Linked DNA regions of Homo sapiens: all the other regions are linked to region 1. The links come from fine-mapping of genetic effects on gene expression. A gene starts in region 1. Each other region holds a variant in brackets. All regions are shown on one strand. Distances are from middle to middle. Region 1 holds the start of OXTR (oxytocin receptor). Region 2 holds the start of LOC124900561 (small nucleolar RNA SNORA43). Region 3 has its middle 14 kb from the start of SSUH2.

Evidence for each region.
Region 2: its variant is fine-mapped to the expression of OXTR in tibial nerve (GTEx, PIP 0.97).
Region 3: its variant is fine-mapped to the expression of OXTR in nasal epithelium (TOPMed, PIP 0.96).

Annotation. Positions count from the first base shown.
Region 1 is chr3:8,764,815-8,775,575 of GRCh38, reverse strand. OXTR (oxytocin receptor) reads left to right here and starts at 5,963. Exons shown (of 4, transcript NM_000916.4): 1 at 5,963-6,345; 2 at 6,985-7,080; 3 at 7,247-8,310. The coding sequence starts at 7,389. RefSeq lists enhancers at 5,799-5,848, 6,496-7,167, 7,840-8,511 and a silencer at 7,459-7,518.
Region 2 is chr3:8,928,242-8,939,002 of GRCh38, reverse strand. It overlaps RAD18 (RAD18 E3 ubiquitin protein ligase), which reads left to right. Exons shown (of 13, transcript NM_020165.4): 7 at 2,948-3,132. It overlaps LOC124900561 (small nucleolar RNA SNORA43), which reads right to left and starts at 7,508; the gene lies at 7,371-7,508. The variant C/T (reference allele first, on the strand shown) is at 4,945.
Region 3 is chr3:8,653,362-8,664,122 of GRCh38, reverse strand. It overlaps a transcript of SSUH2 not described here. Among named protein-coding and RNA genes, the nearest start is that of SSUH2, 14 kb to the right of the region's middle. RefSeq lists a silencer at 445-534 and enhancers at 5,451-5,500, 5,531-5,580, 5,731-5,920. The variant A/C (reference allele first, on the strand shown) is at 5,229.

The DNA of each region.
Region 1 (10,761 bases):
CCAAGCTCTGAGATTCCTTATAGGAAGCTGTTTCTCTCCAGTTATGCCATGTTATGCCTTAACCTGGGCCAACAGTGCCTACACACGGAGAATGCAATGGTTGAGGCCAATTCATTAACAGGGATTGTTTAGCCACATCCGTTGTTAATTGACAACATGTCTATGGAATTAGAAGCCTCGTGTTTATCTCTGTCATCGCTTTCTCTCGGGGAGAATGGCACACAGGGATCAACAACATCCTTTCTCACAAAGAGCCCTCCTTCAACTTGATTTTCATAAAAATACCATTCTAGGAAGCAGGGGTCTGAGTCTGGTGACTCATTTGCTAAGGGGTGTTCTTGGGTAATCCATCAGCCATTTTCTCAACACATTTTCATTCATAGGCATGCATGATAGGAAAATGATGGGCAAATATAGAAAGGACTGTGATATATGGGACTAATTCTAGGCACTTATAACTGGATTGGGAAGACTGAGCACATTCATACTGTAAATATAGTTTTTGGTCATGCTAGAGAGGTTCAGAAAATAATGATTTCTCAGTGGGCCAGGGTGGTCAGGAAAGGCCTCCCTGAAAGGTAAAGAGTCAGTATCCCCATCTCACCAGTTAGGGTTCAAAGGAGTTACTTTCCTTGCCTGGCACAGTGACATTCCCCCTACCTTCCAAGATGCAGTTTGTCTGATTAAATTGAAAATATTATGAACTCCATCCAGAAAGACTAATAAGATGGAGGTTGATTGGATCAGACACTATTTTCATGGAGTGGTCCTGGGGTCAGGATTGTCAGCATGGGAATAAAGATTTGATTGTATAGTTCTCTGCTGTTTGTGAAGCACTCTTCATGTGCATTAAGTTTGGTTTATACACACAGCCTCATGTGATCAGCACCTGGGGAAACCAAGTCTCAGAGAAGTTCAGTACCTTAGCCACGCTGACAAAACGTGGTAAAATCCAGATGCTAGCAAGCACTTACTGCTGCAGATTCAGAGCTCTCTCCAATAGGAAAGCACATTTTTCTCTCTTTCTCCACCCTGCATGGAACACAGGAATGAAAACAAAGGCTGGGAAGTCCAAAATCACACAGGCTAGAAGGAATCCGTGCAAGTTCTACCTATAAGCAGTGGCCTCCTGACACAGCATCCTGGCACGGCCTCAGGAACTTCCCAGGTCAGCCCATGTGCCCTGATGTGCCTGCATCCGCACAGAGCTATAAATGTAAGAAGATCAAGTGTGCCAGCAGCAGGCTGATTGCTACAATGTGTTCTCAGCCTTTATGCCTGAGAGCATGTCACTGACCCCCCTCCTGGAGCTAGGAGCCCAAGCAGAGGCTGAGAAGTTATTTGGGGGCAGGCTGGGGAGGCGGTGATGTTAGGGAGGGGGTAGGTTGGATGTGTTTATAGCTCATTTCCACTCTGACAATAGAGCAAAGGCCGCTTGGGCTTGGATCCATGTTGAAATAAATGTGCCAGGGCTGGAAAATTCCCAAGATGCTAAAACTCAGACCCAGTTCCCAGAGGCAGAAGTGGGTACAGGACAGGTCATTCTCTGGGCAGGATACCTTCCCCAGAGGGCCTGGTTCTGCCCATGGAGATGTTTATTTCTTCCCTCCTTTCCCCCTTCCTTTTATCCTTCTGTATTTAACAAATACCTGAAAGGTGCCTATTCTATAGTGACCTAGGCCTTTCGAAGTACAGGTATAGACAATATTGGCCCCACCTTTAAGATGCTTGGATACAAGAAAAAAACAACCCCATTAAAAAGTGGGCAAAGGACGTGAACAGACACTTCTCAAAAGAAGACATTTATGTGGCCAACAAACGTATGAAAGAAAGGTCAACATCACTGATCATTAGAGAAATGCAAATAAAAACCACAATAAGATACCATCTCATGCCAGTCAGAATGGTGATTATTAAGAAGTCAAGAAACAACTGATGCTGTAAAGGATCTGGAGAAATAGGAATGTTTTTACACTATTGGTGGTAATGCAAATTAGTTCAACCATTGTGGAAGATGGAGTGGCAATTCCTCAAAGACCTAGAACCAGAAAGACCATTTTACCCAGCAATCTCATTACTGGGTATATACCCAAAGGAATATAAATCATTCTATTGTAAAGATACCTGCACATGTATGTTCACTGCAGCACTATTCACTATAGCAAAGACATGAAATCAACCCAAATGCCCATCAATGATAGACTGGATAAAGAAAAAAATGTGAGATATATATATATATATCTATATCTATATAATCTATATATAGATATATATAGATTATATAGATATAGATATATATAGATTATATATATATAGATTATATAGATATATATAGATTATATAGATATAGATATATATAGATTATATATATATAGATATATATAGATTATATATATATAGATATATATAGATTATATATATATAGATATATATAGATATATATATATATAGATATATATAGATATATATGCCATGGAATACTATGCAGCCATAAAAAGGAACAAGATCATGTCCTTTGCAGGATGGATGGAGCTGGAAGCCATTAACCTCAGCAAACTAATACAGGAACAGAAAACCAAACACCACATGTTCTGACTTATAAGTGGGAGCTGAATGATGAGAACACAGACACAGGGAGGGGAACAATACACACTGGGGCCTGTCACGGGGGCAGAGGGAGGGAGAGCATCAGGAAAAATAGCTAATATGTGCTAAGCTTAATACCTAGGTGATGGGTTGATAGGTGCAGCAAACCACCATGGCACACATTTACCTATGTAACAAACCTGCACATACTGCACATGAACTCCAGAACTTAAAATAAAAAAAAAAAAAAGATGCCCGGATACTCAGACAGATGAAGACATTTGTAAATCAGGGATTGCTGAATCTCTGTCTGTGATGGTTCATTTTGTGTGTCAGCTTGGCTGGGCCATGGTGCCCAGATATTTGGTCAAATATTATTCGGGATGTTTCTGTGAGGGTATTTTTGGATGAGATTAACATCTGGAACAAAGTAGATCACCCACCATAACGTTGGTGGGCTTATCCAATCAGTTGAAGGTCTATATGGAACAAAAGACTGACCTCCCTGAGCAAGAAGGAATTCCGCAGCAGAGGACCTTTGGACTTGACCTGCAAAATCAGCTCTTCCCTGGGTCTCCAGCCTGTCAGCTCACTCTGAAGATTTTGGACTTGCCAGCCTCCATAACACATGAACCAATTCCTTAAATGAATCTCTTTCTCTACATATATACATCCCAATGGTTCTGTTTCTTTGGAAGACCGAAAGACACCCTGTAATGTCACATCTTTTGTCCATGCCTACAGCATCTCTTGCCTGGATCTCCAAGGCCTTCATAATGCCAGTATCTCCTTTCCCATCTTCCCTGTGGCTACCAGCATTCTCTCACCAAGCACAGATTTGAGTACGTTGTTTTGCTTGCAGTCCTTCCAGGCACCCCACCTTCCCCACCAATGCCTTCTAACCTCAGTCATCTTTACACTAGCACCTTCATGATTTTTGTTATATCAGACTTTCTCTTTGCTGACGTCAAAAGTAAGCAGAACTGAGAACTGAATTTCCTCCCTGTTATTCAGTATCACTCAATATTAAATTCACATTTAACACTATCAGAAAGTATTCCATCCCATATTTTGGGGAATGTTGGGTTACAGAATAAAACCCATTCTCCTTTACATGGCCTTGAAGTTCCTTTAGCATCAATAAGTACAGTTATCTCTTGGTATCCATGGGGGATTGGTTCCGGGAGCCTTCAAGGTACACAAATCCCTGATATAAAATGAAGCAGTATTTGCATATAACACGTGCATATCCTCTCACATACTTTAAGTCATCTCAAGATTACTTGTAACACCTAATGCAATGTCACTCGTCACTGCATTTGTGTGCATTCAGTGTTGTAGGTGGCACATGACAAATTCAATTTTTGCTTTTTGGAACTTTGAGGATTTTTTTTCCTGAATATTTTCAATCCATGATTGTTTGAATCCACTGAACTCACAGATACAGGGATATAGAGGGCCAACTGTATGTATTAAGTGCTGGCAATGTGCTAGGCACCAAGCAATTCATCTTTAGTCCTTCCTCCAAAACGCCAAAGTGATTCCCCTGCACCACTCTCTGAGAAGTATGCCTTTTTTCTTTGCTTCCTGGAGAACTCATTCTGGAGCTCTGAAATCCAGCTACCTCTTTGTAAAACGATCTCCCAAGTATTACCTCAGCCCCCAGCAGTCCTCACTTCTGTAACATCATTTATTGTTGTCACACTGCAAATATTAGGTTGATGCAAAAGTAATTGCAGTTTTTGCCATTATTTTTAATAGCAAAAACCACAATTACTTTTGCACCAATCTAATATGTGTTTTTCTCCCTGGCCGAAGCTCAAAGGTGAAGGAGCATGTCTTATTCATTGTTAGGAGTTTTCAAGGGGACCTCTCTATTTCCTGCCTGGTTTCTGCACACAATGAGAAATAAAACAAAAGACAGGAAATGGGGATCACACTATTACTGTTGTTGTTATTGTTGTTGTTTAGATTAAAACTAAGTTAGAGAATTTACCTTTTGCATGAGACTAAATAGCCCTGTTAGGTGAATCCAGAATTAGGCTGTCTCACGGGCTACGCGAGGACCACACAGGTAGGCAGGCTTCCCTACAAAGGGTAGAAGAGTCTGTCCTTGGTGAAGTGGCTCAGTAAACTTGCTCCCTAGAAAGCAGCTGTCTTCCAGGAGAAAGAAGGGCAGGCTTGGTTCTACAGGCCAGTGTTTTCCTTCTCACATTCACCGGTCAGGGGCTCATAGGGAAAAATCTGCCTTCATCCAGCCGTGGAGTGAGGCAGGGGTGTTTTACCTGCTAGGATTGAACCCTCAGATTGCACAGATTATACAGTTTCAGAAAACCAGAGGGACAGGACCTCAGACATTAGCTATCTTGACCAGTGCTCTCATTTTACATATGAGGAGACTGAGGCCCAAAGAGAAGGGGCTTGCCCAAGGTCACTTCATTCTCACCTGAGTCGTCTGTAACTTTAATCTGTAATTTTCGAGGCCGATAGGTACTATTGACTAATATTGATTAATACTGCCTGCCACCCCTTGGCAATGCTGTCAAGATTCCCAGCCCCATTCTGGAATGATTACTCAGCTAGAACCCTGGGATCCAGGTGCTGTAAGGTTGGCCCCTGGGATATCTCGGCATGGGGCTGTAATTGTGGATTAAGGAAACCCAGTCCTTGGCTAACTCAAGTCTCTCCACATAATAAAAAGACGGAGAAGTGAAATGTCAGGAGGAAATACACATTTAATGCATTTTAAAGAGCCCTGTTTATTTTTGAATCCTGGCCTTTTTTTCTGACTTAATTCTTGGCCACTGTAAATTACTTCAAAAAATGATTTTAGAATAGAGAAGGGGCAGGGAGGCTGAGAAGCTGTCTTTAACATTTTATCTTCCTTTGGCATCATTTAGAATTTTAATTCCGAAGCGCGACAAGGAGGCAGAAACGGCTCTTGGGCGCAGACAAGCAGAATCACTTTAAATGAAGACAGTGTTGTGCTTCAGAATTTCCTCTAAAACTACCGAAAAAATAACGCCTCTCCCAGCACTGCTTAGAATAGAGGCCATTTCTAATTCCTCATTAACGGGAATAGGAACAAAAGTATTCCAAAGCAAAGACTTATTTGAGTTCACTGCTAAAGCCGCTACATCAAGCTGGAGGTGTGGGGGGAGAGAAAAGCCTGAAAATTAACATCATTTTTGGGAAATAATCAGTTTAAATGCTTTTGTAACTTCATCACTATCTACCCGGGGAAGAACATTATTATTCAAGCCTCCTATGTGTCTCGGAGTCAAGAGCTTCTAAACCAAGAAAGGAAGAAACGGGCGGGTTATTGACGAGTTCCCTCCCTCTCGCAGTTTTAAACCACTGCAAAATAAACCCATTTGTTAAGGCTCTGGGACCAACGCTGGGCGAACCAGCTCCGCTCCGGAGGGGTCTGCGCGGCTGGCCTCGCCCGCCCCCTAGCGGACCCGTGCGATAGTGCAGCCTCAGCCCCAGCGCACAGCGCCGCATCCAGACGCTGTCCGCGCGCGCAGCCTGGGAGGCGCTCCTCGCTCGCCTCCTGTACCCATCCAGCGACCAGCCAGGCTGCGGCGAGGGGATTCCAACCGAGGCTCCAGTGAGAGACCTCAGCTTAGCATCACATTAGGTGCAGCCGGCAGGCCATCCCAACTCGGGCCGGGAGCGCACGCGTCACTGGGGCCGTCAGTCGCCGTGCAACTTCCCCGGGGGGAGTCAACTTTAGGTTCGCCTGCGGACTCGGTGCAGGTAGCTGGGTGCTAAGCAGGGGTGGACGGGATGGCTAGGGCCGGTGGAGCCATCGGGACCCGAGTGGAGGTGGTGGGGTGCCTCGCACTCCTTGTTCCTGGAGGAGCTCGGGGTGTTCCGAGAGATTGTAAAGTGACTTCTCGGGATTGAGACTCAGAGTCCTTGATTATCTGGGTCCAAAGCGCAAGTCAGGGGTTCCAGAACTTTCGAGGCTGCCGGGCTGGGGAGGAGCCCCGCGGGAGGTGTCTATGCCAGGGTCTGGGAACAGCGCTTGGGCATCTTGGGCTTTGAGGCAGGGGTTCCCCCAGCAGGGACTGCAGAACCGGGTTTCCACCGAAGCAGGTGCTGTGGAAGTTCAGGGAGTGACGGCCGACCGTCTTAGAAAAGGGGGTTAGACGGGGAAGGACCAGAGCTGGGGTTTCCCAGGCAAGTGGCTATTTGGGGATTTCCGGAGGAAGTACTTGAATTAATGTTTACTAGGAGAGGGGCTGGTTTGGGGGTCCCGCGGCAGGTGGATATGCTGAGGGTCGGAGCCTGGGGCGAGTAGGTAGTTTGGAGATTCCCTCGGGGAGGTGATTTGGTTTTAGATTCCCACTCCCGGAGGAACGTTGCTGATTTTGACCCTCCCTTCTCCCCCAGTGGAAGCCGCTGAACATCCCGAGGAACTGGCACGCTGGGGGCTCTGGGCTTGTGGCCGGTAGAGGATTCCCGCTCATTTGCAGTGGCTCAGAGGAGGTACCTCCAACGGGGATTTCTGGGGTGGCGGCTGAGCAACCCGAGGCCGGCGGTTGTGCCCTGTTGTTTCAGATGAGTTGGGTTCCTGGGAATGGGACAAGCACGCCCTACCCGCGTCGGAAGAGAAACGCGGCGGTCTCCTCACGGCCCTCCCGGTTTGTTTCAGGGTGGACCCAGCAGATCCGTCCGTGGAGTCTCCAGGAGTGGAGCCCCGGGCGCCCCTACACCCTCCGACACGCCGGATCCGGCCCAGCCGCGCCAAGCCGTAAAGGGCTCGAAGGCCGGGGCGCACCGCTGCCGCCAGGGTCATGGAGGGCGCGCTCGCAGCCAACTGGAGCGCCGAGGCAGCCAACGCCAGCGCCGCGCCGCCGGGGGCCGAGGGCAACCGCACCGCCGGACCCCCGCGGCGCAACGAGGCCCTGGCGCGCGTGGAGGTGGCGGTGCTGTGTCTCATCCTGCTCCTGGCGCTGAGCGGGAACGCGTGTGTGCTGCTGGCGCTGCGCACCACACGCCAGAAGCACTCGCGCCTCTTCTTCTTCATGAAGCACCTAAGCATCGCCGACCTGGTGGTGGCAGTGTTTCAGGTGCTGCCGCAGTTGCTGTGGGACATCACCTTCCGCTTCTACGGGCCCGACCTGCTGTGCCGCCTGGTCAAGTACTTGCAGGTGGTGGGCATGTTCGCCTCCACCTACCTGCTGCTGCTCATGTCCCTGGACCGCTGCCTGGCCATCTGCCAGCCGCTGCGCTCGCTGCGCCGCCGCACCGACCGCCTGGCAGTGCTCGCCACGTGGCTCGGCTGCCTGGTGGCCAGCGCGCCGCAGGTGCACATCTTCTCTCTGCGCGAGGTGGCTGACGGCGTCTTCGACTGCTGGGCCGTCTTCATCCAGCCCTGGGGACCCAAGGCCTACATCACATGGATCACGCTAGCTGTCTACATCGTGCCGGTCATCGTGCTCGCTGCCTGCTACGGCCTTATCAGCTTCAAGATCTGGCAGAACTTGCGGCTCAAGACCGCTGCAGCGGCGGCGGCCGAGGCGCCAGAGGGCGCGGCGGCTGGCGATGGGGGGCGCGTGGCCCTGGCGCGTGTCAGCAGCGTCAAGCTCATCTCCAAGGCCAAGATCCGCACGGTCAAGATGACTTTCATCATCGTGCTGGCCTTCATCGTGTGCTGGACGCCTTTCTTCTTCGTGCAGATGTGGAGCGTCTGGGATGCCAACGCGCCCAAGGAAGGTAGCCAGGGCTGGGAGACCCAGGAGGAGGGAGCCTGGTGGCTGGGGGAGGCCCTTATCTTGCTGCCTCAGAATGTCCAGGGGTCTGTGGACTTCCTGGGGGATAAGCGGGTTTGAAATCCCACAGAGTCACTGCTCTGTCATCCCTTGACCAAGTGACTTAGGGCAATTAACCTCCCTGAGCCTCCACTTTCTCTTCTGTAAGGTGGCAATAAGGATAAAAGTACCAACTGTCACCAGGCATAGGGGAATGCCACGAGAAAATGCAGTTAAAGTCCTTAGCACAGTCCTTGGGCTGCATATGGGCTGTATGGTTTACTGTGGTGGTGGAAACAGGTTCAAGGGACTCCATCTGCTTTCCCACGTGGTTAGGAGGAGGTGGTGGAGGTAAGTTTGGAACCCCTGGCCAAGCTCAAGCTCCTTCAACTTTAAGTTCACGTTAAGATGAACTTCCACTTTAAGTTCAAGAAATCCAGCTGAAGCCAAGAAGTCTGGTTTGGACAAGGACAGCCTTGCAGGAGTGGCAATTTGTCCAACCAAGCACCTAGTAGTTGAAGGGGGTGTTGGGGGGCAGAGGAGTCCAAGGGAGAGGTGAAGACAAATCCCTGAACTCCTCATCGAGTGGAGGTGATGAGTCTCCATGCAGAGAGGTGAGTACTGCAAGGAGTGGTGGGCAGGCTTAGGGAGGAGAGCGCCCAGGACTGAGACTTCACTTCCACTTGGAGGAAAGAGAAGAAAGCCTTGAGGGGGACATTCAAGTTTGAGGGGGAGGCTGGGTGATTTCTGTAGGTGGGGAATGTGCCTTCCAGGTAGGAGGACTGCTGAGGACAAGGCTGAAGGTGGGGCAATTGTCCATTCTTGGCCTGTGCCAGAAAGCTAAGAGGAGGGCATAGAAGAGGGCGACCTAGGGAGAAAGCTTGGAGGAACAGAGGCACCCTAGGGCTCTGGGGTTTGTGGCTGGTGCTGGGTGGCTGTCCCCAAGGCACAGAGCACCAGGCAGCTTCCTGTCACTCCCTGCCCCCCAACCCCTTTCCAGTAGCTCATTTGGAAAGACCAGGAGGGGGTGATTGCTGGTGGTGAATGATTTATAAGTTTTTGTTTGAAGGCAATCCCATAACGCGTGCTGGATGCTGGGGACTTCAAATGTTTGTAAAGAAAGACCAAAGGATTTGCTTTCACCCTTTCTGCACTCCAGACACTGCAAATGTCCCATTTCTGTGTGCAGTTACTACTGCTCCCAATAGTCTCAAATACATGCATCCTGGGAAGCCGAAATCTCAGTGCCAGCTGCTTTCATTCAGTTTGGTAACTTTGCTTTGGTCCTTTCTGAAAATCACAGACTCCAGGCTTTATGGAACCCTCCCAGTTAGCTCAGTGTTTGCTTTAGTGGCCAAGACACTGGTTATTCAATATTTACCGAACACCTGTGGCCCCTGGTAACAACTTACAGAGAGGGTTCTAGGGCCCCGAGAGGGGAAGGCACTTGCACCAGGTCACACAGCAAGTCAGAGGCACAGCTGACGTTTCCTATGCCAGGGTTCTTATGAAGGACACATGATGAGGGAGTGGGGTTGGGCAAAAGCCAGTAGTGGAAGTCTCTAAGTAAGGCCTTAGGCCTCACCTGTTTCCTGGGCAGATCTGAAGAAACCAGATCCAGGTCTTGAGGAGCTCGAACACCAACTATCAAGAAAGTGAAACCAGCACCCTTTGGAGTAGATACTGGAGAGATGTGGGGTCTAGTCCTCCTCCAGCCCTTACTAGCTTTGGGATGTTAGATGAGAGATCTCTTTATTCCCCTTGAGCCTTAGTCTTGCTTTTAGAATGAGGACATTTCAGCATTCAGTTAATTCATTCAACAGACATTCCACTCCTCTCTCCTTGGGGTCCCCTCGCCTCTCCCATTCATGTCTTGAGTCTCTGGTGATTTTTCTCCTTCCCTTTCCTCCCAGCTCCCTCCTCTATGGCTTCCTGCTTTTCAGCCCCCTCACTTGCACTCCTCTTCTCACTGTGTGTCCTCCCTAAAGAAGGAGAGTGTGTGGTCAACACGTCACACGTACCGTGAAGCGAAGTTTAGATCTTTTCTACACTTTAAAAGCACGTCAACAATTGATTTCTTTGTCTTAGAAGCAAAAGAGAGAGGAAAAAACAGACACACACAGATCCTGGCCAGAGTGGAGGTCATAGGCCTCTTGAGTGTTTGTGGTCCTCTGAGGATTTTCCTGGGGACCAGACCTTCAGTAGAGACGGGCTCCTGCTGAAGCCCAAGGGGCAGGGAAAGAAGAGGACTTTAAGAATTTCAGGTCCTACTTCCCTTTGCTTCTTTAGGAATTCACAGGGAAGGGTGGGTGTTGCATGAAAAACCCAGGGCTTCTCTTGGTCCTCCTCAGCATTCTGTCTCAGGTACTGAGAAGAATCCAAACACAGACCGGCAGGGATTCATGATGCTGCTGCA
Region 2 (10,761 bases), 160 kb before region 1:
TCAGCTCAGTATTTACATCTAAACAACTGTGCTGTTCTACCTCCCTTGTACATGAAAATAACTGTAATTTCTCATGCTAGTCCACTATTGTTACACATATAAGTTGTTCAGGAATGAAATACTAGTCAAACTTAAATTGCAAGGCATTACGGAATCAGTGGATAATAAGCAGAAGACACAATTTAGATGAGTCTGGTGATGAAGGGAGAAAGATGAGATGGTAGTTTGGAGAAGCAGTGAGTGGCATAAAGATCAAGGGTTGTTCTTTTTAAAAATAGGAGTTTAAGCCTTCAGTCTCTTTCCTTCCACTATTTCCAGGGAGAGAGCAGAGGATAAATGGAAGAAAGTGAGGAGCACAAGAGCCCAGTAATGAGGTTATCCTTGACATGCAGAAAGGACCCTTCTGAAACAGGAGGCAAGGGCAAGATAATAGGTGATAATTCAGAGAGATTTGGAAAAGAAGAGGAGGGAAGCTGAAGAAATTAATGGTATCTGAGAAGTGGGGATGAAAGAATGATTTGCTTCTATGTTCAGTCTGTTTTGAAGGACTTTGAAGAGTATTTTCCAAAAACCATGTTAATAAGACAGAGCCATAGTATTATTTTTTGTGATTAAAGAAAATACATCACTTAATTTTTATGAGTAAATTTGGAGTGAATGCAGATTCTGAGGGTCAGATTCATACTGTTACAACTTACAAAAGCTAACATATAAGACACAATGGTGCTTTATTAAGGTAGACATACTTGAGTCCAAACCTGGGGCAGTTTTACATGCACAGTACTCCCACCTAGTGGGTAAGTTTGTTAATGAGAATAAAATTTAGATTTTTAGGTTGCTTAGTGGTGATTTGGAGTAAATGAATAGTCCTAAGGATTATTTCCCATAAGCCACGAGAGTTTGATGAACTGCTTTTCTCTTTAGAAATGCATGAGTTGGGAATATAGAAGCTGAGTATATTCTTTTGGAAGAGTAAGGAATCTGCACTGATTATCTTGCATGGACTCCCCTTTTTCTAGATCCATCCATCAGTTCGAATACATTTCTGATACATCATTTCTGATGCTGTCAGTTTGTTTGAAGACATACTCGTCCATGTGTAATTAAGTTCTAATAGTGGTTTAAATTCCTGCTTCAAAGAACACTATAGTCCTGCCAGTGCTCTGTAGTGAACTTATAAGCACTACCTCCTGGATCCCCCTCTTAGTGTGTTAAAGGCTTTGAGAAGTCCTACATTAAGGGTTACTGTTAGGTTTTGTTTAATTTAGTAATCCTAAATTTATTTGACCGCCAAGCCTTTCTGTTCTCATCACTTCCATCTTACAAAACTGGTGTTTGTGGAGATTCTGAAGACAACACTGGGCCATGTTCTTCTTTAGTTGTATCTTGGCCACGGAGTCAGGTCATAGAGAAAAGGCCCTGTGAGTTTTCCTGTCTCCTCCACAATATTCTGACAGGCCATCTGCTGAATGTGAGTGGCAGCCCTTAACCCTTCTATATAAAACCATGTCAGAACTGCCTCAGATTCTGAGGCCCCTTAAATGTATTACTCAGTTCCACTAAATCATGGAAGAAAAATCAATGTCATTTTCGTGTTTGGGGAAACATTTATCAGGTTTCATGTTTTAAAATTCCTGATAGAAATTGTTGATCTCTGGTGGTGCTTTTTATTGTAAATGCCAGTGAACAGTACAGTTCTTCACTGGAATTTCACAGTCACAGTTTAATCATCTGTCCTTGATAAAACAAATATTTTAGATACAGACGTAATGAATCATCTCTCCCTGTGTGCTTCTGTAAACACAAAATGATTCAGCTGTTGCTACCTACTGAGATTTCATTTTGCCATAATTTTATCAACCTTGTAGAGTCAGATGGGTTGTCATTGTAAGAAGAGCAATTTTCAGAAAAATATAATCTATTGAGAGTTTGCAGGTCTTTTCACAGTTAATTAGTTATTTCTGGCTTTTAGACTTTGTTAATACAGCATAAAAGACATAATTTATTTGGGGAATGGCTCTGTTGGTTAATAGAGAAATTTTTGATTGTTTTCAGTCTATACCTGACTGTAATATTTCTCTGTTTGATTATTGGACCGTTTATATCAGATTTACTCTGGAGAACCTTGTTGAAAATAGAGATTTTAGAGCTCCACTTCAGACCTGAACCCTAATTGGTGGATGGTGTGGAGAAGGGGATGGAGAATCTGCGTTTTAAATAAACTCTTTAGGTGCTTCTTAGGTACACTAACGTTTGGGACAGCCTTGTGTGAGCTAGTTATATGCAAATCCTTTGTAAAAACTTGTTTTTTGGATAAACCTATTATTTCAAGTTTCTGTTAATTTTCACCTGAATCTTTGCTATTCTTATTTTGAAATGATAGCAAGTGTAATGACCTCCTTGAGCACATTTTTGTTAAGCATCTAATTGCCATAAAGCTGAGCCAGGTAGAGAACCTGCTATAATCAGGTGAAATGAATTAAAACTCACTAAGAAGTTCCTGTTTATGGAATTGCTTAAGTCATTGGTACTTTTATGTAGCTTGAATTTTAGCCCACTAGAATTTCTAGCATGCTTTAAAGAGGTGGAAAATTGAATAGGTCTATGTAAGTGTGATTCTAAGTGAAGTCCTCACAGCATATTCCACAAGCGTTACATATATGTCTTCTAAGTGTGCCTCTTTAGGTCTGACCTCTTTTTGAGACCCAAGTCTCTCACTTCTGGTGCCACCTAGGCCCCTGTGTCTGAATGTCTTACCAGCACCTCAGATACATCATGTCAGACACTCAACTTTATCCACAAACTTGATTTTTCTCTCCCCTTTTTAATCTAATGGTTCTACTATTTTCCCGGTCACCCAGGTGTTGAATCAGAATTTATTTGCCATTTTACATGAAAAGCATTTGATAATTCACAATAATCATCAGGTATCTTCCCCCCTTTTCAGTTCTGTTCACAAAAGGAAGCCGCTGCCCAAAACTGTATATAATTTGCTCTCTGATCGTGATTTAAAGAAAAAGCTAAAAGAGCATGGATTATCTATTCAAGGAAATAAACAACAGCTCATTAAAAGGCACCAAGAATTTGTACACATGTACAATGCCCAATGCGATGCTTTGCATCCTAAATCAGGTAAAGTAATAAAACAGTGAGTTATGCTTACTTTCTGGATAAAGCAATTTTGTGTAGCTCAGAAATTATAAACCATAGAAAAATATTGTAAATAAATACATTTTTGATAGATAAGACGTGCAAATGTGTTCCTTCAAAAGGTACCTAGAGTATGCTATGATAAGCCAGCCTTCCTCTCAGCCTGCCTTCCAATCCCCAGATCCCTTCTCAGAGGCACCCCATTGCCAGTTTCTCATGTGCCTATCTAGGGAGAATGTGGTGGGGAAGAGTGGATCTGGAGAGCCTGGGTTACAGTGCCCGTTTTTCAGCTTTGTGGCTTGGTGACTGTGGGCACGTTACTTGATATCTCTGTACCTCAGTTTTCTCCTTCATAAAATAAGGGTTATAATAACTACCCACTTCATAATGTTGAGTGAAATAAATGATAAAAGGCATGAAAAGTGCCTAACACAGTACCTTAGCAAGTAGTTAGCTTTCAGTAAATGTTGCCATTATGATTATTGTACACAAACATATATCCTTTTCATTACTGTTTTTACAAAATGATAGTATTCTGTGTAGTGCACTATTTAGTGGTTGGTTCTTTTCATTAAACCACACACATACATTGGAGTTCTTTCTATTAACATATAGAATTGCCTAATTTTTAAAAACTTGGAGAATAACATGCAAACATTAAAACACACAAATTATAAGTGTATTGTTTGGTGAATTATCACAAACTAAATTTCATAAAGTGAAATGTCATTGTAGCCAGTACTGAGATCACTACCAGCGTCCCAAAAGCCCTATCTGCCCCCTCCCATTCACTCCTTCATTCTCACATTTGACCACTGTCTTGACTTCTAACCCCATATGTTCATTTTGCCTATGTTTGATCTTTAAATAAAGGGCCAATAGCTTATGTATTCTTTTGTGCCTGCCCTCATTTGTGCAACATTATAAGATTCATTCATGTTTTTTTATATGGTCATGTTTTTTTCATTTTTGTTGCTATATGGTATTCCATTGTATAAACGTATCATCTTATCCATTCAGTGTTTAATAAACATTTCATTTTGTTCCCACTTTTCCTCTATTAATAATGCTGCTACAAATAATCTTTTATATATCTTGTGGTGCACATAGGTGCATGTTGCTGTTGGATATATATATACAGGAATGGAATTGGTGTTATATATTTGCAGATATTCAGCTTTCATGGATACAGCCCCAAATTCAGTAGTCATGTACACTTTCATCAGGAGGGTGTGAGGGTGTCAGTTGTTCTGCACCCTTGACAACATCACCACTGTTAACTCTCCATTTTAGCCATTCTAGTGGGTCCATGGTAGTACCTTGTTATTTTAATTTGCATTTCCTTAATGACTTATAAATTTTATATGCTTGTTGGCCATCTGGATGTCCTCTGTAGTGAAATACCTGTTTAAATCTATGTCCAATTCTTCTGTTCTGTGGGCCTATTTTTATTCTTATTTGTGGGAGTAATTGAAATTTCCTGGATAAAAATCTTTTGCTGGATGTATGTACATTTCTAATTTCACCTTTTCACTCTCTTAATGGCATCATTGAAGAGTAGAAGTTCCTAAAATAGTCCAATTCATTACATTTTTCCTTTTGATCAGTGCTTTGCCTTAGCCTACTTCAAGATCATGTGGATCTTCTCTTGTTTTCTTTTAAAACTTTATTGTTCTTGCTCCTAAATTTTGATGTACGGTTTATCTGGAATTGATTTTAGCATATGTTGTGAGGTAGAGGACAAGATTGTCTTGTTTTCTTTCCATATGAATAACCAATTGATGCAGCACCACT[C/T]ATTGAAATGCCATCCCTTCTCCCACTGAATTGCCAGAAGTCTTGGCTGAGAATCAGCTAATTGTACATGTGTAGGCCTGGACATTGTTTTGTTCCATTGGGCTATTATTTACCGTTGAGCAGGATAAATAATGTGTGTCTTAAGTACTTTATGAGTAATTTATAATAGGTCTTGCTGTCTGGTAATATAGTTCTTCCAGTTTTGTTTATTGAGGTTGACTTGTTTTTTCTAGGCCTTTTGTATTTCCATATAAGTTTTTAAATTGGGATTACATTGAATTTATAGATCAATTTTGAGATAGTTGATATCTGTATAGTATTTGAGTCTTCCAATTCATGAATATGGTTTGTCCCCTTTTTTGTCTTTGATTTTTGTCAGTAATGTTTTGCAATTTTCAGTGTGAAGGTCTCACACATCTTTTTAAAGAGTTATTCTCTGATATTTTTGATGCAGTGGTACACGATGTTTTATTCTAAAATGTCAATTTTTATTAGTTGCTTGTACACAAAAATACAACTGGTTTTTCTATAGTTTCCTTATATCCAATGGCTTGTCGCTTTTTGTATGTGCCCTTTTTATTGATGTATAACTTACTCACATGTAATACATCCTTTGAAAGTGTATAGTTAGATGAATTTAGGCAAATGTATATTGTCATTTAGCCATTGCTCTAACTGAAATGTAGAACATTTCCTTCATCAGCAAAAGTTCCAGTGCCCCTTTGCTGTATATTCCCTCTCTTTTACTCTAAGACCTCAGGAAACACTGATCTCTTTTTTTGTCCCTATAATTTTACCTTTTCTAGACTGTCACATAAGTGGAATTACACAAATTGTATAGTATGTAGCATTTTACATATGGTATCTGTCACTTAGCATAATACTTTTGAGATTTTTCCATGTTGTTGCTTTTACCAGTAGTGCATTTATTTTTTATTTTATTTTATTTATTTATTTATTTTTGAGACAGAGTCTCTCTCTGTCGGCCAGGCTGGAGTGCAATGGCGCGATCTCGGCTCACTGTAACCTCCGTCTCCCAGGTTGAAGCGATTCTCCTGCCTCAGCCTCCCGAGTAGCTGGGACTACAGGTGCCTGCCAGCACGCCCGGCTAATTTTTGTATTTTTAGTAGAGATGGGGTTTCACCATATTGGCCAGGCTAGTCTTGAATTCCTGACCTTGTGATCTGCCCGCCTCTGCCTCCCAAAATGCTGGGATTACAGGCATGAGCCCCCGTGCCCAGCCAGTGCATTTATTTTTTATTGCCAAGCAGTGTTCTGCTTTATAGCCATGCCACAATTTGTATATCCCTTCACCTGTTGATGGACAACTGGACTGTGTCCAGTTTTTTTATTATCAGTAAAGCTGTTATGAACATGGGTTCACAGGTCTTTATGTAACCATATGTTTTCATTTCTCTTGGGTGGAGTGGAATTGCTGGTCATATGGTAAATGTAACTATAAGAACCTGCCATACAGTTTTTCAAATGACTGAATCATTTTGCATTGTGAGAGAGTCCCACTTTTGCCACACCCTTGCTAACACTTGGTATTTTCATTCTTCTTAATTTTAGCCATTCTAGTCAATGTGTAGTAGTGGTATCTCATGATGGTTTTAATTTGCATTTTCCTGTGACTAGTGGTGTCTGCTGTCTTTTGATAGTTTTATTTGCTATTTGTATATTTTCTTTGATAAAGGCTTGGTTGAAATATTCTGCCCCTTAACTCTTTTTATTGATTTGTAAGTTATTTATATATTCTGGATACTGAATTTTTAAAATATATGTGTTGTGAATATTTTATCTTTGTATGTGGCTTACCTTGTCATTTTCTTAATGATGTCTTTGAAGAGCAGAGAGTTTTAATTTTGACGAAATTTAATTTACTTTTTTTATGATTTATGCTTCTTGTGTATCATTTCATGATTTTTTATGTATACAATTGTGTTGCATGTCAACAAAATATTTGCTTATCCTAAGATCACAAAAAATTTCTCCTGTGTTATTTTCTAGGAGTTTTATAATTTTCGCTTTTATATTTAAATCTATGATCCATTTTCATTTAGTTTTTCTGTATGGTGGAAGGTAAATGTCAAATGTCAAAGTTTATTTAAAAAATATGTATATCTAGTTTTTCAGCACCATTTGTTAAAAAGACTATCCTTTCCCCATTGAATTACTTTGCCCTCATTGTCAAATCCTAACGGCCATGTATATAGCATGTGAATCTATCTAGAATCTATTCTGTTCCACTGATCTATATATCTGTCCTTTCACTCATGACACACTCTTGATTTCTGTAACTTTATAGTAAGTCTTAAAATTATCAGGTAGTATAAGTCCTTCAACTGTGTTCTCAAAATTGTTCTAGGTCCTTTGCAATCCCACATAAATGTTAGACTCAGTTTTGTTGTTGTTGTTCCCCTAAGAAATGTCAGGCTATTATCCATTCTTGTTGTTCAGTGTTTTCTGAACACTGAGTGTAGAAATAGCCACTTTCACTTCGCCCCGATGTTACAGGCATAGCAGAGCATCTGCATCTGTGCAGCTGGCAGGTCCAGGACAGCATCTGCAGGGCAGTCAGTTTATTAGTGTGTACCTTTTGGGATTTTGAGTGAGATTACATAGATCAGCTTAGAAATGATATCTTAACAATATTAAGACTTTTAATGCACAGTCGTGGTATGGCTCTTTAGGCCTCCTTTACTTTCTCTCAGTAGTGCTGTCTACTTTTTTATGTGTGTGTGTTCCATGTATTTTGTTAAATGTATCCTTAAATATTTCATGTCTTTTGGTGCTATTGTGAGTAGTTTTAAAATTTTTATTTCTCATTGTTTATTACTATTTTAAAGAGTCATTTTGACATTTATTTTTGTATATTTACTTGTATACTATTAACTAGTGAAACTCATTTCTAATTGCTTTTTTATAGATTTCATAGGATTTTTATATACACAATCAAGTTACATGCCAATAAAAACAGTTTTATTTATTTATTTTTTTCAGTCGATATGCCTTTTATTTATCTTTCTACCCTTGGTTAGTTGCATTGGTTAGAACCTCCAGTGTGATGTGGAATAAAAGTGGTGTGGGCAAACATCCTTTCCTTTCTCCAATCTTTTTTTTAAATGAATTTCTTAAGAAAGGATCTCTGACTTTCATCTGATTTTTCAAGGGTCTGTCTCCCCAGAAGGAAGAATAATTGCCTTCAAAAATCATTTGAGTGACAGTACTATTGCATCAATATATGTTCTTTTAATTCTGGAATACCCCAACTTATAGGTAAAACATTTAGTCTTTCACTATTAAGTGTGATAGGTTTTCATAGATGCCTTTTATGAGGTTGAGGACATTTCTTCCCTTCCTAGTTTATTATTATGAAGGCGTGTTGAATTGTCATTTCCTTATTCTACATCTATTGAGATTATTATATTTTTATTTATTTTGTGATATGATTTATAACATTGAGTATTAATCAGTTTATTGAAATATAATTCATATAATACTGAGATATAATTCATACCCACCTGAAGTGTACATACAGTTCAGTGGTTTTCAGTATATTCACAGAGTTGTACAACTATCATATTAAATTTTAGAACATTTTGTTACCCTGAAAAGAGCCCAGTATCCATTAGCATCATTATCTACCAACCCTTCCAGCCCTAGATAGCCACTAATTTACTTCTGTCTCTATAGAGTTGTCTATTCTGGATATTCCATTTAAGTGGAACCATATAGCATGTGGCCTTTTATAAACTAACTTCTTTCACTTAGTATAATGTTTTCAAGGTTTATCTGTGGTCAATACTCACTTATTTTTCATTGCCAAATAATATTCCATTGTATGAATATGTCACATCTTTGTGTCTGTTCATTAGTTCAAATCTGACATTTTTCCACTTTTTGGCTATTATAAATAATGCTGTTATGAACATTTATGTACAAATTTTTATGTCGACATATGTTTTCATTTCTATTGTGTCTTTACCTAAGAGTAGAATTGCTGAGTAGTATGGTAATTCTATTTTAACATTTTGAGGAATTGCTAGACTATTGTCCAAAGTGGCTACACCATTTTACATCCTACTAGCAGTGTATAAGAGTTCCAGCTGTGCCGGGCGCAGTGGCTCATGCCTGTAATCCCAGCACTTTGTTTGGGAGGCCGAGGCAGGTGGATCACCTGAGGTCAGGATTTGGAGACCAGCCTGGCCAACAGGGTGAAACCCCGTCTCTACTTAAAATACAAAAAATTAGCTGGGCGTGGTGGCAGGCGCCTGTAATCCCAGCTACTCAGGAGGCTGAGACAGGAGAATTGGGTGAACCCAGGAGGCGGAGGTTGCAGTGAGCTGAGATCGTGCCATTGCACTACAGTCTGGGCAACAGAGTGAGACTCCGTCTCAAAAAAAAAAAAAAAATTAATTCCAGTTGCTCCATGTCCTTGCCAACACCTGTTAGTCTGTCTTTTTCCTAGTGGGTGTGGTATTGATTTACATTACAGTGATTAATTTTTGAATATTAAACTAACCATTCATCTTTAGCAAGGAATGTGTTCATTTCATCTAAGTTGTTGAATCTATAGCCAGAGGGTTCTTTTTGTTTTTGTTTTTTTAAGTAACATTTTCTTGTTAACCTTTTAATATCTATGGGGTTTGTGGTGATTTACTGTCTTTCATTTTCTATACTGAAAATGTGTCTTCTTTTTTCCTGATTGTTCTACCTATAAGTTATTAATTTTTCTCGTTTTTCTAAAGAATCATCCTTCAGCTTCATTTTTCTCAAATTGCTTTTTCTCAGTTTTTGTCTGTTTTCCTATTTCATTGAATTCCAGTCTTTTATGATTTCCTTCTTTCTACTTACTTTAGGTTTAATTTGCTCTTCTTTTTTTAGCTTATTATGGTGGAAGTTTAGATAATTTCAGATTGTTCTCGATGTATTTAAAATACAGATTTTTGTCTAAGTGCTATTTTACCTCTATTCACAGACATTGATAGGTTGTATTTACCTTCCCATCCAGTTAAAATATTTTCTAATTTTTGTTGTGTATTCTTCTTTGATTCATATGTTAAATAGAAGTATTGTTTAATTTTTAAAGATTTTGGTTATTTCTTAGATACCTTTTTATTATTCATTTCTAATTTAATTCAATGTTGGCCAAAGAACCTGTTCTGTATCATTTCAGACCTTTCACATTTACTGAGACATGCTTCATAACTTAGGTGTTAGGTCTTCCTGGTGAATATTGCATAAATACTTGAAAAGTTTGCTTTTTTGTGCAGTGATCTGTAAATGCTATGTAAATTTACTTGATAGTATATTCAAGTCTTCAGCATCCTTGCTGATATTCTGTTTACTGATTCTATCAATTACTGAGAAGCTTTTTGAAATATCCAACTATATTTATAGATTTTTCATTTTCCCTGTCAATATTTTCAGTTTTGTTATATTTTGAATCTCTTAGTATTATTATGTATCTTCTTGATTAGTTAGCCTGTTTATTATTATGGCATATATGTCTTTGTCTCTGGTAATATTCCTTGCCTCAAAAATCTATCTGATATGAGTATAGCAGCTACTTTATTTCATTTTTCTTTAAACCTATTATACCATTATGTTTAAGCTGTGTTTTATTGTAAGCCGTATATGGTTTGGATTTTATTTTATAATTTAATTTGACAAGCTCTACCATTAAATTGTAGGGTTTAAACTATTTTAATTTCATTTATTCTATTTGGTTGGGTTTATATCTGCCATCTTGCTTGTTTGCTGTTCTATCATTCTTTTGTTTTTTCTTCATTTCCTGCTTTTTTTTGGATTAAC
Region 3 (10,761 bases), 110 kb after region 1:
ACTTTCTGGGTTTGCAGCAGCCTTGGGGGTCCAGGACCTGCTAAGAGGACTTGGCAGGGCACCTGGGTCAGCAGAAACCTCGTGTTGACATGGGCCGGGAGAGAAATAACCTGGGTCTCCCAGCACTTCCCTTAGAAGCTATATTGTGTAAGTTAACAAGCCAAAGAATCCCTCACTGTCTAACCAAGGAAAATATTTTTATCTTACTCAGAAAGCAGTTCCCTCCTTTGTGCAGTGCAGCTAGAAGAAAACAACATTGTCTTGGGACACGCATCATTACTAAGAATTTTTCCGTAAATTTATCTGTGTGCCTTCTACAGTTACCTGTGTGTCCCCTGTGGTACCTATGGAAACCAGTTGTTGGGAAATCCTTGTTAAGGTAAGAGCGTCTATGGACCAGTGTGTCCCAATAGCTTTGGATGGGGGAGGCTGAGTTAGTTAATCAATTAACACATTCCTAGCACCCCCTGGTGGACATTGCTGGTCTAACTGACCTTGGAATTCCTGGACTTGCCTGGGCTGGAGATATCACACCCAGCCAGACACCCCCCACCCCGCCCCACTGCTGTGGCCCCCACCTGACCCCGACTGCCAACCACGCCTTCTTAATTTTCTCTGTGTTTTTCTGTCGCTTTGTGTTTGTTTCTCACAAAGCCCTGATGAAACTATCAGGGAACAAAGGACGAGAGACAGGGGTCTGAATCCAGAGTAAAGAGTTTCAGTTCCAGGCACTTCCTTGGGCTCAGCCCATGCATTGCTGTTCTCTGTATGTCAGACAGGAGGGGGTAGGTGAATTCCAAGGCTCCTTGTAGCAGAATAATGCAGTGTGGTAGAGCCTGGGCTTTGGGGTCGGTCAGACATCTGAGATGTTGGTTTATATCTGAGCTTAGTACTTGAGGCAAGTTACCTCAGTGCCACGAACTTTAGCTTTATGAGCTGTAAAATGGGGATAATAATGATAATAGCTGTCCCTGGATTTATGGTGGAGATCAAATGGGAGCAGGCATGCAAAGCCCAGCTCAGCATGGCACGTTAATTATCAGGCTCAGCTCATGGCAGTGGCTGTTTTTATTAATGCCACTGTGATCTTCCAATGATTTGATCCGGGAGATGCCTGCTGAAGAGAGCAAATCAATCTCTACACGATAGTAGGAATAGTAGCATCGATATGGCCTTGGTACTTATTTTGCATTTGGAAAAATTCCAAAATGCTTCATTCATCTCAGGTTTTTAGTGGGTAATTTGTCCCAAGTCAGTACCACTGGAGCCTGGAGCCATCTTCAGCCACGTGGGTGTCATCACATCCCTGTCTGCGAGTGCAGATTTGGGATGAAGACCAGAGTCAATAAGGTAGGAAATGACATCTGCCTAAGTGGCCCTGTTGGAGCCTGGGGAAAGCAGGGCTGTGTAGGTAATGATGTTCTCTGATGTTTCACAGCTGTAACTCTGTTCCTTGTTCCTGAGTAGGGCCAGGCTTTTCTGGTCTAGGTGCTCAGCCTTCTTCTACTTCTGTATATCTGTCCTTGTTCCTTCTCCTTTTTCATTCCTTCCTTGATTTTGCTAACACACATAGCACTCGCTGTATACTTGCCTCAGTACTTCACAGGAAAAACTCAGTTCATTTTCTCAACAACCTTGTGAGCTAGTTCCTGTCATTATGCCCCCTTCACAGGTGGGGTGAGTAGTGCCACTCTGGGTCCTGCCATTCACTGGGAGGGAGACCTCAGGAGGGACCAGGTCAGGGCTCTGACTGGACACTCAGTACTGACGTTTGGTATCAGGAGGGCAGAGTGAGACAAAGGTGCGCATTTCACACTCAGCTTCTGTTAGGGGACACAGGTTTTGTTAGAGGACAATTCCCCATGGCCCTCTCTCATTTCTGCATGTCTTGCAAGCAGAGGCACTGTCTGCCTTTTGTTCTGTGTTATCTTTGCATAACAAACATTCTTGGGAGACAGAGAGAGTGTCTCCCATTGGAACAAAGGTGGGCATGTGTATTAGTGTACTTTCGCACTGCTGATGAAGACATACCTGAGACCGGATAATTTATAAAGAAAAGAAGGTTTAATGGATCCACAGTTCCACGTGGCTGGGGCAGCCTCACAATCATGGCAGAAGGCAAAAGGCACGTTTTACATGGAAGCAGACAAGAGAGAGAATGAGAGCCAAGCAAAAGGGGAAACGTCGGATTTCATGAGACTTATCCACTACCACAAGAAAAATATGAGGGGAAACCATCCCCATGATTCAATTATCTCCCACTGGGTCCCTCCCAAAACACATGGGAATTATGGGAGCTACAATTCAAGATGAGATTTGGGTGGGGCCACAGCCAAACCATATCGGTATGCTTACTTACAACAGGTTCCCCAAGCTAAGCATTGCTGTTCTGTAATGCAACCCACTGCATATACAGTATTACCTGGCCCTCTTCATGTGGTCCTGTGGAAACTGAGGCTGAGGGCACTGGTGCAAAAACCTTGATTGTCTGGCTATTGCTGTTGCTGTGATAATAAAGTCCTTTGTCTCGGATTCGGGAGTCTCTCACGCCTCCTGTCAGCATCCATGAAACAGGCAGGCTGACTTGTTGGCTTGCAGGTAGGGTAAAATCTCATTGCCTTCACAGTTCCTGACAGCTTCCAGGTTCATGACTTAGAGGAGGCAGAAGTTTAGGATTTTAATGATGAATCAGCCATAGCATCCACTCTTAAATTGCTCATAGACTAATGGGTGTAGAGGGAAAAGGATACGTGAGAGAATGACATACAAGTTAAACAGTGAATACTTTCAGAGCAGTTAAGGAAAAGACAGTTGTTGGGCATGGCTTGAAAGATGAATGAGATTTTGGTGGATTAGGAAGCTGGGCAACGGAGTTCTAGGCAGAGGGAACAGAGTGAGTGAAAGCACAGAGGTGCATGTGAAGGCCAAGAGTGGATTCAGGGGACAGTGCCTGGTTACTTACAATTGTAAAATATTTCTTTAGTAAGGTGTAAGGAGCAGTGGCTAGAAGAAACAGCATGGACTTCGGCGTCAGACAGTAAGTCCAAGAGCATGAGAGCCAGAAATGCATGGCCAGCTGGGCTGGACAGCTTCATCCATTCTTCCAGAGTCACCCTTTACCCTTCACATCCTGCTCACTGTCCTGGCAGCCTGGCCTTGTCCCCTTGCTCTGTCTGGGTTGGCCAATGGGAGGTGCCAGTGAGAGATGAGTGTGTTGCAGGAAACTGAGGACAGGAGAGACTGATACGGAGAACAGGAGGATTGTTTATTTTAGGTACTCACCGGCTCAGTGGATTCATATCCAAAAAGCTGAGCATTGAACAAAGACTGAGCACAGTTTTTATAAGTTGACTACAGAAGCAAAACAAAAGCAGCTAATCATATGATAGGTCATATAATCTATAGCATAACGTAACTTGTGGCCCTGCATAGCTGTTGGCCTTGTGAAAGAAAAACAAGAACAGGCTAAATATAGACATTTGTAAAACACAGCTGTACTTAAGAAGCCAGGGAAAGGAGCAGTAACAATAAAGGAATTTGTCTTTCTCTCTTTTTTTCCCTTCAATCTTGCTCTGGCAGGGGGTTGTCTGGAGCCCATTCTTTTGGCCTTGGCTTCTCAAACAGTGTTATCTTATAACTGTTCTTGAAGTGAGATTGCTAGACAGAGGAAAACTTGTTCTTTTCTTCTTAACCCTTGACTTGCCTGTTACTTTTCTTGGAGTGAATGAATGCATATTTATTTTAAGTTTCTGCCTCAAGTGGATGAGAGGCGAGTGAGGTCAGGGTGTTGATCTTGGCTCCTGGCCTGCAAGGTTGCCTTGGGCTGCTCTTTTCCTTTGATGGAAAGTCACTGTGCCCTCAAGGGGGTCTCTAACCAGCGCTCTCTTTATGGATTTCTATAAATTCCTTCCTCTCACCTTTTCAAGTGGTAATGGCTGCATTACAACTAGCCAGGTAACCACACTCTCCTGTGTGGTCCCCAACCCTGCCTGTTAGGAATTGTGTAGTCCCTGTGGAAACTAACACGCCTCCTGGGATCTGACTGGAGCAGACTAGCTTCCCTGTTGGGACCCGAGTGGTACAGTGGCTGATGGGGATGAGATGGGAAGAACGTTAGGTCAAACCCTAGAGGACATGTGTTAGGAGCCTGTCTGAAGAATGGTTTCCTAGTTTCACCTAATGAACTCCATTCTCCCTTTAAGATCCAACTCAGATGTCTGCTTCCCTGGAAAGATTCCCATGAACCCATGCCACTTTCCATAGCATTTATTGACTGTGTTCTAATTGCCTCCTTCTCTATCTCTCTCTCTTCTGACTGCAGGTATCTGATGAATCTCCATATCTCTTACACTGCACACAATAAATACCCATTGAATGAATGAATACATATATGGATGGATGGACAGACGGATGATGCATGGTAGATGGATGAATACTGGATCCCATGCCCATTGAGGGTTTGGGTCAGGGGACTGATGTGAGCAGACACACAGAAGCACGGGCAGCCCCCGGCCTCCAGCAGATTCTTCCAACCCAGCTGGAAAGACATGATATGGACTTGGGAATTCTCTAACTCTGAAAGGCCCCCTCTGCTGAGGTGTCCCATGTTCACAGACAGTGTGCATGACCAGAGGTCAGAAAGAAGGGAGCTCACTCTGCTCTGGGCAGGGGGAGATCAGGGAAGGCTGCCTGGAGGAGGTGAGGCTGGAGTGGGGCATTGAAGGATGGGAAAAGTTATGTGGATGGAGAGGCGGAGGGAACAAAGGCCTGGGAATCTGATGGGCCAAAGGGAAGACAGGAGACAAGTAAAGCTTGGAGATTTTGTCGAGAAAAGAAGAGAGGAGGCAATTAAGGTGGGAGAAATGACACCAGAAAACCACTGAAAATGCCCCAGTGGGGTTTGTTACTTTTAAAAAAAAAGCAACCACAAAGAAAGACAATGAAACATCCATGTTTTCTTTAGTAAGGTGTAAGGAGAAGTGGCGCCAAGAAACAGCATGGATTTCGGAGTCAGGCAGACCTGGGCTAGAATTTCACCCTTGCTGATTTTTCACTGTGTGACTCTGGGCAGGTGACTTTACCTCTCTGAACCATAGTTTCCTTTTCTAGAAAATGGGCCTTGTAATAGTACCTCTTAGGGCTGCTGTGAAGGAAGGATAACATGGAAGCAACATGCCTATCATAGTGCTTTGTGTATGGTAAGTACTTTGTTGATGTTATTGTTAATA[A/C]TATGACTACTATAGCCTTTATTATGTTTTGTTTTGTTTTGTTTGGGGGAATGTGACATTTGAGAGTCCTGGGCATTGTCTGCAGTAGCTGTGGCAGCTGTGATTGTGGGTAATAGAAGGAGAAGTCATGCAGGCACAAGGCTTTTTTTCTTCTCTGTTTTTTTGTGGCCTGAAAGAATGAGATAGCAGAATATTAATACTGCTATCTGGAGGCTTGACGCTGGGGCCTGGCGGGGGCTTGTTTTTGCAGCCAGAAATAGTCTGGCCTTTGCCTTTCCAGTGGGCAGGTTGCCAGGCCAACGAGTGTGTAAACCACCCGGCCGAACAAAGCAAAACTATTTTTACCTTGGGGAGCCCAAGAATGCATCACAGAGTTTACGCACCTGCCCCACCCAGCCTGGCGGCCCAAGCCAGTCGCCAATGGAGGCTGGTCTGCGGCAAGCAAGTGGAAAGCAAACAGTCCTGCCCCTTGGGGACCAGCTGCCCTGGCAAGGATACCAGGTGTTCCAGAAAGGCCCAGAGTACCCCCTCTTTCTCCTCTAGCCAGAAACTCTGAGAGAGTTTCTGAAGTGGTCACGCAAGGAGCAATAAAGGTTTAATTTTACCACCTAATTCGATATGAATAACAGCAATTCTACTCATAGCAATGCCTTCCACTTACTGAGATTCTGCTAGCCACAGGCACTCCGCTAACTGCTTACACATGTCGTCATCTCTTAGCCTGTAATAAATATCTCCATGAGGGTCATCCCCAGTTTTCTGATGTAGAAGCTGAGGGTCAGAGAGGTTAAGTGACCTGCCCAGGGTTACCCAGCTAGGATGCAGTTTGACCCCAGGCCCATTCACTGCAGAGTGGATGCTCTTCTCACCTCCCTCACTGTCTCCCCACACATGGGAAGAACAGGGAGGGCCAGCCTTGGAGTTGTCGTGGGGAGAAGGGTGCCTACGGTCCTGCCCATGCAGGGCTATGCAGGCGTGGAGGCTGGGAAGAGACTGGGACAGCCCCACTGCCTGCTGATACCAGCAGATATGCACACATACTGGAGAGCGAGGGTGGCGCCATGCCTGGTTCTCTGCTGAGCAAGAGGGAGGCCAGGGTGTCGGAGTCTACAGAACTGAATCCTCCATGTGTTACCATAGTGAAGGCTTTTCTTCCTTTCTCCCTCCCTCCTTCCCTTCCTTCTATACTCACCTCTTGGTAGGATGTGGTAGAAAGAGCATAATTTCGGTAGTCAGCCTTTGTTCCCTCCTCTTCTCCATGTACTTGACTCTTTTCATCCTTCAGTGCCCAGTGTCAGCCTCGCCTCCTCCAGGCAGCCTTTCCTGATCTCCCCCTTCCCAGAAAAGAGTGGGCTCATCTGACCTCCTGTCGTACCCACTGTCTATGAGCATGGAACACCTCATGGAGGGTGGCCTGTCAGTGCTAGAGAACTTCCACGTGTCCATGTCATGCCGTCCCACCTGGGTTGAAAGCTGCTTGAGGGTAGGGGCTGAGTCTTGGGCTTCTTCATGCCACTTTGTATTACTCCTCTGCCTCCTAACCTTCCATGACTTGTACCACCCTTTGGATTGATTATTCATCCACTCACCTATTCAACAAATACTCATCAAGTGCAGTGTCAGTTATGTGAAGATGCCTGAGATGCTATCCTGAAGTCTAGAGTCAATCAGGAAAGAGAGCTAAGAAAGGAGGTAATTATAAAACAGGGTGGTGGGCCAGGCACAGTGGTCCAGGCCTGTAATCCCAGCACTTTGGGAGGCCAAGGCAGTAGGATGACTTGAGGTCAAGAGTTCCAGACCAGCTTGGCCAACATGGCAAAACCCTCTCTCTACTAAAAATACAAAAATTGGCCGGGTGTGATGGTGCATGCCTGTAGTCCCAGCTACTCAGGAGGCTGAGGCAAGAGAATCACTTGAACCTGGGAGGTGGAGGTTGAAGTGAGCTGAGACTGTGCTACTGCACTCCAGCCTGGGTGACAGAGTAAGTGAGACTCTGTCTCAAACAAACAAACAAACAAACAAACAAACAAACCAAAAAATGAAGCAGAGTGGTAAATCCCATGGAAGAGGAGGCAGACTCATCGTGGGAGCCAGAAAAACCCACATTCAAATCCCGGCTCCACCACTTCCCACCTGTAGGAGCTTGGTCAAGTCACTTCCTCCCTGTGCCTCAGTTTTCTCATTTATAAACTGAGGCTAATAACAATTCTCAACTCACAGGGTTGTAGTGAGGACCGAATGAGATGATGTGGCCTTTTCGTCCTTTCCATCATGTTGGCTCCACATGGGCAGGGGTTGTGTCTTCCTCGCTCCCCGTCGTGTCCCCAGCCTAGGGCACATGGTGGGGCATGAGGACTGTTTGTGGAATGGCTGTTGCTCCGTCCCTGGGTCACAGTCAGTGACTGCCTGGTGCTGTCAAGAGGGGCTGAGAGTCCAAGAATTGGAACGCTCAATCCATAAGCAGGTTTTGTGCCAGGTTGGGAACACAAAACAGGGCAGAGGTGGCCAGGAGGCGGGCAGCAGCGAGGTTCCAGGAGGCCTCATTTCCTGTATGTTAGAAGAATAAATAGTAAAATGTGTCCTGGACCAAACCTTTGTTCCTTTTCTTGCCAGACTTGCTTATGGGAAAATTAGCTGCTTTTAGCAGAACATGGAAAAGAGGGAGAGTATATATTGCCAGAGGTTTAAGTTTCTCAATTTCAAACCTAAACATGAAGGCTTTTCAGTTGTGTGTTCTGTTTGAGATTTGCACAAACCTGGTCTCTCTCTTTCTCTTTTTGTCTCTCTCTCTTTCTTAAAATCTTAATTTCCTTGGTTATTGTTGAAGTGGGACACAAATTATTAAAAAACAGAACAAACCACCCAACAACTAGAAACTTTGTTTTCATAGCAGCACAGGCTTATATTTAGTTAGAATAATATTCTTTTGAAATTCAATTTCCCTTATTCCACAGTGGTAGGAGGAGAAGAAAAAAAAAGTGGAGATATCTGAAACATTCCCCAGCATTCTGAACTTAGGATAGAACAGAGCGGGTTTTGAAATCCTGGCCTGTGTGTTTGCCTCCCGAGTCTTCTGCTCTACCTTCAATCATTCTTCTGACAAAAACAGAAGAGCGAGGGGCTGTGTTATCAGTTTTCTGATTGGCTCTGAACAAAGGAATGGTGCTTTCTCTCCACGCTGTCAGCTCATTGATGTCAATCAGAAAATGGATTCGAGGCATGTTTGGGATTCCGACTAGTTTGTGTGCATAACGAGTTCCAAGTCAATATTTTCAGAGGGATGAAATAGATAGAGGTTGTGGGGACTAATGGGGGCAAGAATGACCCACTGAGACCTTGGGAAGCCACCCACTGTGATCTCGGGGAGGCCACACACTGAGACCCGGGGGAAGAGGCCACCCACTGTGATCTTGAGGAGGTCACACACTGAGACCCGGGGGAAGAGGCCACCCACTGTGATCTTGAGGAGGCCACACACTGAGACCCGGGGGATGAGGCCACCCACTGTGATCTTGGGGAGGCCACACACTGAGACTGGGGGATGAGGCCACCCACTGTGATCTTGGGGAGGCCACACACTGAGACTGGGGGATGAGGCCACCCACTGTGATCTTGGGGAGGCCACACACTGAGACTGGGGGATGAGGCCACCCACTGTGATCTTGGGGAGGCCACACACTGAGACTGGGGGATGAGGCCACCCACTGTGATCTTGGGGAGGCCACACACTGAGACCCGGGGGAAGAGGCCACCCACTGTGATCTTGGGGAGGCCACACACTGAGACTGGGGGATGAGGCCACCCACTGTGATCTTGGGGAGGCCACACACTGAGACTGGGGGATGAGGCCACCCACTGTGATCTTGGGGAGGCCACACACTGAGACTGGGGGATGAGGCCACCCACTGTGATCTTGGGGAGGCCACACACTGAGACTGGGGGATGAGGCCACCCACTGTGATCTTGGGGAGGCCACACACTGAGACCCGGGGGAAGAGGCCACCCACTGTGATCTTGGAGAGGCCACACACTGAGATCTGGGGGAGGCCACACACTGAGATTTGGGGGAAGAGGCCACCTACTGTGATCCTGGGGAAGCCACACACTGAGATCTCCGGGAGAAGACCACATACTTTGATTTTGGGTAGGCCACACACTGAGACCTTGGGGAGAAGGCCACACACTGTGATCTTGGAGTGGCCGCACACTGAGACCTTGGGGAGGACACCCACTGAGACATTGAGATATTTATATTTTCCCTGGAGCTCCGGCATCTGTCTGTAAAGTGAGGTGCTACGGTTCTATTCCTACTAATTTACCCTATGGAAACACACACACATGTGTAGACATAAGTACAAGGCTATCTTTAAACCACAGCAGTGTAACTGCAGGGAAGTAGGAGACAATTTGGGTGTCTATTGAGAGGAGAATGGTTAAATACATCATGATACATTCCTACAATGGGAAACTACGAAGTGTTAGAAATAAAGGAAACTGAGATGACGTGGGTGATTCTACAAACATGATGTTGAGTGAAAGAAGCCAGATTCTTTTGTTGAAAATTCATCTGTTGAAGCCCTACCCCCTAATGTGATAGTATTTGGAGATGGAGTCTTTAGGACGTAATTAGGTTTAGATGAGGTCGTGAGGGTGGGGTCCCCAGGATGGAATTAGTGCCTTTCTAAGAGACAGAAGAAAGCTTGCTCTCTCTCTTTCTCCTCTCCACATGAGGGCATAGCAAGAAGGCAGCCATCTACAAGCTAGGATGAGAGCCCTCACCAGAACCCAACCATGCTGGCACCCTGATCTTGGAATTCCAGCCATCCAAATGGTGAGAAAATACATTTCTGTCATTTAAGCCACCAGTCTGTTGTCATGGCAGCCTGAGCTGACTAATACAAGTGCCTGCTGTTTGAGTCCAAATGTATCAAGTTCAACAGGCAAAACTGAGCCATGCTGTTACAGGCAGGGGAACGGTTCCCACTGGGTGGGGTGGAAGGGTCGGGAGGTAGAGAGTGAGTACCGGAAAGTGGCCTAAAGTGGCTTCAGAATCTGGTCATGTTCTGTTCCCGATCTGAGTTTTGGTCACACGGGTACATTTACTTTGTCAAAATGCATCCAGTTGTGTTTTTAAGATTTGTGCTTTTTAAAGGATTTGTGTTATAATTCAGTAAAATGTATACAAAGAAAAATAATCTCATTCAAAAATTATCAGTAAAAACAAAAGTCTTGTGAACAATATTTTAGTTATTTCTATGTTATTCGTATTCAGCCCAGTGCCTGAATTTAAACCGGATTGTGTGCTAAATGTAAAATCTGCTACAGCAACAACAATAAAATGAACAAGGTAAAACTGTGTATGCTGTTGACACAGAAAGATATCCATATTGTATTTTTTGTTTCTTCTTAACAAAAAGGATGAGCAATATTTACAGCATGATTTCATTTACGCTTTTTAAAAATTCTAAGTGTATGCACACTTATAAGCAAATTTACATGTAAATTGACATGTGGACATTGGAGGTGGGGTGAC